2 separate regions of the Homo sapiens genome follow, and region 1 is linked to region 2. Evidence: fine-mapped expression QTL. A gene starts in region 2. The other region holds a variant in brackets. All regions are shown on one strand. Distances are from middle to middle. Region 1 overlaps P2RX7 (purinergic receptor P2X 7). Region 2 holds the start of P2RX7 (purinergic receptor P2X 7).

Region 1 (2,915 bases), 39 kb before region 2:
AAGCTCTGGACCATTCTTTACCCTTTATTCTGCCTCTTGAGCGGATCTGGTACTTCCTCCTGTGGCCCTGTCTAGCATGGCATGGCCTGGTATGGCCTGGTATGGTGTGGTGTGGCCCCATCTCTTGGGAAAAGTATGTAATAAATTCTTCTTGGCCAGGTGCAATGGCTCACGCCTGTAATCCCAGCACTTTGGGAGGCCAAGGTAGGCAGATCACCTCAGGTCAGGAGTTTGAGACCAACCTGGCCAACATGATGAAACCCCATCTCTACTAAAAATACAAAAATTAGCTGGATGTGGTGGCAGACGCCTGTAATCCCAGCTACTCAGGAAGCTGAGGCAGGAGAATCACTTGAACCCAGGAGGCAGAGGTTGCAGTGAGCCGATATCACACCACTGCACTCCGGCCTGAGTGAGAGAGTAAGACTGCCTCTCAAACAAACAAACAAACAAACAAACAAAATATTCTTTGAGTGGCATTGACCTCTCTCTGTCATCACTCAGTACTAACTTTAAAAATTAAGCGCCAGGCACAAATCATCACAGTCACCCGTGATATGCAACCCTCACCAGTGCTGCAGTCAGGAAAAGTGGTGTGTTTTGTTTTTCAAGAATAATTAAGGAGGCTTAAAATGAACGCTTCATAAAACTTTTAAATCTGCCCCTTCTTCTCACCACACTTTGATGATTCTTTTTAGATAAAGTTACATATACATGTTTATTTTTTCTGAGTTATTAATTCACCGTCTAGTTACAAGATGTAGGGAGAGAAGAAAGCAGATGGCAGATGTTCTGCCAAAAAATAGTAAGAAACATCTGAAACTGTTTTTAAAAAACCTCTCAAAACCTGACATTGAAATCGATCAGATATTCTCAGGCACTTTAGTGGCTCTTTCTGACTGGAGGGAATTCAATTTCTTTGCATGTGACTATTTCAAGAGAGCTTTTTCTCTTGCTGATGTATTGAGTGATTTATCTTTGTTGTTGTTGTTTGTTTTTGTTTTTTTTGAGACAGGATCTGGCTCTGTCATCCAGGCTGGAGTGCAGTGGCTTGAACACAGCTCACTGTGGCCTCCGCCTCCCGGGCTCAAGTCATCCTCCCACTTCAGCCTCCCGGCAGCTGGGACTACAGGTGCAAACCATTACACCCGACTAATTTTTAAAATTTTTTTATAGAGATGATGGTCTCACTGTGTTGCCCAGGCTGGCTTGAACTCCTGAGCTCAAGTGATGCACCCACCTCAGCCTCCCAAATTGTTGGGATTATAGGCATGAGCCAACGTGCCCAGGCAGTGATTTGTTTTTTAATTCGCAAGCAAGCATGCATTGCCACTGCCTGCCCTGGGATTGGCATTATCTCCCTATGTGAGTTGGTTTGCCTGGGAAGGTTAACATTGTGTAGTAAGCACGTGAATTTCTGCTTCCAGAGTCTTGTTACAGTGGCTCTTAAACTGAAGGCAAGAATCACTTGGGGTGATGGCTGGGCGCAGTGGCTCACGCCTGTAATCCCAGCACTTTGGGAGGCCGAGGCAGGCAGATCACGAGGTCAGGAGATCGAGACCATCCTGGCTAACATGGTGAAACCCCGTCTGTACTAAAAATGCAAAAAATTAGCCGGGTGTGGTGGCGGGCACCTGTAGTCCCAGCTACTCGGGAGGCTGAGGCAAGAGAATCGTGTGAACCCGGGAGGCGGAGCTTGCAGTGAGCC[G/A]AGATCACGCCACTGCACTCCAGCCTGGGGGACAGAGCAAGACTCCATCTCAAAAAAAAAAAAAAAAAGAAAGAAAGAATCACTTGGGGTGAGTGTGTTCAGAGGCAGACTCCTGAGCCCCTCACTCAAAGAGTGGTTGCAGAAGCTCTGAGATGTTTCTAGGAGTCTGTATTTCCAGTACAGGTACCAAGTGATTATTCTGATGCAGGTAGTCAGTGGGCTATGCCCTGAGAAACATCGGGCCTTGAACAAGAGTGTTTTTCGTACACTGGAATGGGTTGAGCCCCCAAATAAGATATGTTCAAGTATCTAATCCCTAGTGGCTGTGATATGACCTTATTTGGAAATACAGTGTTTGCAGATATAATTAAGTTAAACATCTCAAGATGAGATTATCCTGGATTTAGGGTAAGCCCCAAATCCAATGACTAGTATCTTTATAAGATAAAGGAGAGATCAAATCGCTTGAGCCCGGGAGGCAGAGGTTGCAGTGACCCGAAATTACGCCATTGCACTTCAGTCTAGGAGACTGGAGTGAAACCCTGCCTCAAAAAAAAAAAAAAAAAAAAAAGAGATTGAAGACATAGAGACACAGTGGAGAAGGCCATGTGAGGATGGAGGCAGAGATTTGTGGGACGCTGCTATAAAGTTATGGAATGCCTGGAGCCACCAGACGCTGGAAGAGGCAAGAGAGGACCCTCCCGTAGAGCATCAGAGCGAGTGTGGCCCTGCTGACATCTTGATTCCAAACTTCTGGCTTCCAGAACTATAAGAAGATTAATTTCTGTTGTTTTAAGCCACCACATTTGTGGCAATTAGTCATAACAGCCACAGGAAATTAACACAGACACATACTCCTGCTGGGCCTGAGAAGCGCGTCGTGCATTCTGGGTGGCCTGATCCACTTCACACAGGTCGTGCATAAGCGGAATCACCTATTCACTGAATAAGGACATTTCGCCACAGGTCATTTTCTAAACAACAGAATTCTGTAATGTGATCAACTTCTTCAACTTCCTATGTTTTAGAAAGTTATATTTTCTGAAATACCTCGTATAACCTGTAATTTCCTTCTCTTTTGTGTGTCTGCTGGAAAATAACTTGTCCACTTACTCATCAGACCTCAACAATTTATTTATTTATTTAAGTTGTTTTTAAAGACAGAGCTTTGCTCTGTCGCCCAGGCTGGAGTGAAGTGGCATGACCC
Region 2 (2,915 bases):
TACTAAAAATACAAAAATTAGTGAGGAGTGGTGACGCACACCTGTAATCCCAGCTACTCATGAGGCTGAGGCAGGAGAATCGCTTGAACCGGGGAGGTGGAGGTTGCAGTGAGCCAAGATTGCGCCACTGCACTCCAGCCTGGGCAACAGAGCAAGACTTCATCTCAAAGACAAAAACAAAATGACAACAACAAAACCCAAAAAGACAGACGATAACAAGCGTTGGTGAGGATGTGGAGAAATTGGATCCCTCATACTCTGCTGATAGGAATGTAAAAAACTGCAGCTGCTGTGAAATTCAGCTCCACATTCCCCCCAAAGGTGAAACATAGTTAACATATGACCTAGCAATTTTTACTCTTAGGTACATATTCGAGAGAAAGGAGAATATATATCCACATAAAACCTTGTACACAAATGTTCATGTGGCATTATTCATGATAGCCAAAAAAGAGAAACAACCCCAATGTCCATCAATGGATGAATGGATAGAAAAAAGTGGTCTATCCATGCAATGGAGTACTACTCAGCCGTAAAAAGGAATGAAGTATCAGCCGGGTGCAATGGCTCACGCCTGTAATCCTGACACTTTGGGAGGCCGAGGCAGGCAGATCACTTGAGTCCAGGAGTTTGAGACCAGCCTGGACAAAATAGTGAGACCCCGTCTCTTTAAAAAAAAAAATTGAATGAAGTATCAACACATGCTACAACATGGATGAGCATTGAAAACACGCTAAGTGCCACAAAGGACCACATATTATGTGATTCCATTTATATGAAATGTCCAGAATCGGCAAATCCATAGAGGCAGAAAGGAAATTGATGGGTGGGAAGGAGGAGGAACAGTGTTGGAAATGATGGTGAAGGAGTGTGGGATTCCTTTTGAGTCGATTAAAATATTCTAAAATTGATTGTGGGGATGGTTGCACAACTCTGGGAATAATCTGAAAATCATTAAATGGTACCCTTTAAATGGGTCAATTGTATGGTGTATAAATTATATCTCAGTAAGTTTCTTTTAGAAGAAACAAAAACCAAAAAGCAGGGCCTTCCTGACGTTGGTGAGGACCTAAAGTTATAACACATTTTCAAGCCTGGTCCTATTCCTCCCAAGCATGGTGACTCAGATGCCAGCATGATCACCAGGCGTGCCCTGAGATCCTCGCCTCCTCCCTGGGGATCCAGGGTGTTGCCCTGCGCTTTCCTACCTTCCCCAGGCACGCCCTGCCCTGCGCGCCCTGGCGGGCCTGAAGTAGAGCAGAAAGGAATCCCGCTTGTCCTGTGGCTTCTCTCTGCTGCAGCCTGGCACCGTTTCCTCTTGCCTGCTGCTGCTTCCTCCCTCCCGCCCAGCTGGCTGTGAGAGCACGTCTCAGATTCGAAAACCATGTGAGATTCAGAATGTGCACCTGAAGCTGCCCGCTGGGGCTTTCTGTGCTGTCGGCCACTGCAGAGATCTGGGTCCTCCCCAGATCCCACTTACCAAACGTAGGAAAAGATGATCACGTGGAAGAACCACTTAATGGTGCCATAATTCATGCTCTGGATCCGAGTGACTTTGTTCGTCTCATACTGGAAAACATCACTGCAGCTGCAGCAGGCCGGCATGGTGACAGCCTCCCTCCCTGCGCGGAGCTGGACCAGAGCTCTACTCTTCCTGACAGGGCCACAGCAAGCCCCCTCCCAGTAACTGCAAAATGAAACGTACTGGTTTTTAGCAGGAGTCTTTAACTTCAAGCTCCTCCAATGACTGCAGAGTTGGGGCGGGCCCTGGCAGTGGCCCCACATGTGGCTGTGATAAACAAGAAGCGCCAAGTCCTACGGGCCTGGCTGGCAGATGACCTCACCCCAGCTGGCCTCCCCCAGATGCCTACACAAAGATGGTGTTCAGAGGATGGGCATTTTTAGAATTCTCCCTTTTCCCCCCTTTCCTTTCACTTTTTTGGTCTCATGTCTCTTGGGAGAAAGGGGCAGCCTTGCAAATGTCACAAGACTGGGAGCTTCCATTATGCCTCAGAAAAGGACTGAGATCTTTCCATTGCCTGAAGCCCCACTCAGAGATTGATTCATTCATTTCTACAACCCTTTATTCAGCCCCTGATGTATAGGAGCTCTGGGTAAATGAAGATCTCCCCCTCTTCTTCCACCGCCCCTTATAATACTCTGGTCTGCAGTTGGTGGGGGAAATCAGATTTGCAGGGGTAGGGGTGGTGGGGGTGGAGGGGCTTTATTTTTCTGCCAGATCTTTCATGCTTGACCCTCTGAGTTACTCTCCACCCTCCTCTGCACCCCGGCAGGTCGATCTATGACCTAGACCAATCAGCCAAAGATCACCAGGGACACAGTGGCAGTCCAACAAAGTTAGGTTTGTTGACCTATTCAGTGAGGGACACCACCCACCAGAAGAGCTACGCACATCACCAAACAAAGGAAAACAGCAATTTATTATAGGATTCCGAGGAAAGTGGAGTTGAGATAAAATCTAAATGAAGTCATGTTTTGATGGACTCAAAGCAAAACAGGTTTGTACAAAGCAGTCAACTTCAGTCTGGATTGCAAAGAGGACCCAGGGCCCTGTTTCCTAGGAAGCAACATAGCTAAGATACATGTCAAATGTGTCCAGAAAATCTTTATCTGAAGCTCTGCTCCTGAGTTGTAAATTGAGGCTGCTTCTCTGTGTCAAGATGACTTAAATCTTCCAGGCAAAATTGGAATATTTCAGTCTTAGTCATGTAATTTCAAACAGCAAAGTTTCTGAAGGTCTCTGATTTTAAAGGACAATGTTTCAGCAGTCACTCAAAGATGCAGGGTTGTATTATCACTTTACAGCTACAGAGAATTATTGTTCCCTGTTATCTTTACAGCTGGCTTGATCCCTTTCTGTTATTCCAGCCTGCTAAGTGGCCGGGTAGATTTTC

The links.
Region 1: its variant is fine-mapped to the expression of P2RX7 in whole blood (TOPMed, PIP above 0.99). The same link has a PIP of 0.9 or more in prefrontal cortex.

The regions. Positions count from the first base shown.
Region 1 is chr12:121,170,724-121,173,638 of GRCh38, reverse strand. All of the region lies in intron 8 of P2RX7 (purinergic receptor P2X 7), which reads right to left. The region is part of intron 2 of LOC105370032 (a long non-coding RNA gene); the gene reads left to right. Among named protein-coding and RNA genes, the nearest start is that of P2RX4, 38 kb to the left of the region's middle. The variant G/A (reference allele first, on the strand shown) is at 1,709.
Region 2 is chr12:121,131,661-121,134,575 of GRCh38, reverse strand. It overlaps P2RX7 (purinergic receptor P2X 7), which reads right to left and starts at 1,700. Exons shown (of 13, transcript NM_002562.6): 1 at 1,481-1,700. The coding sequence starts at 1,605. All of the region lies in intron 2 of LOC105370032 (a long non-coding RNA gene), which reads left to right.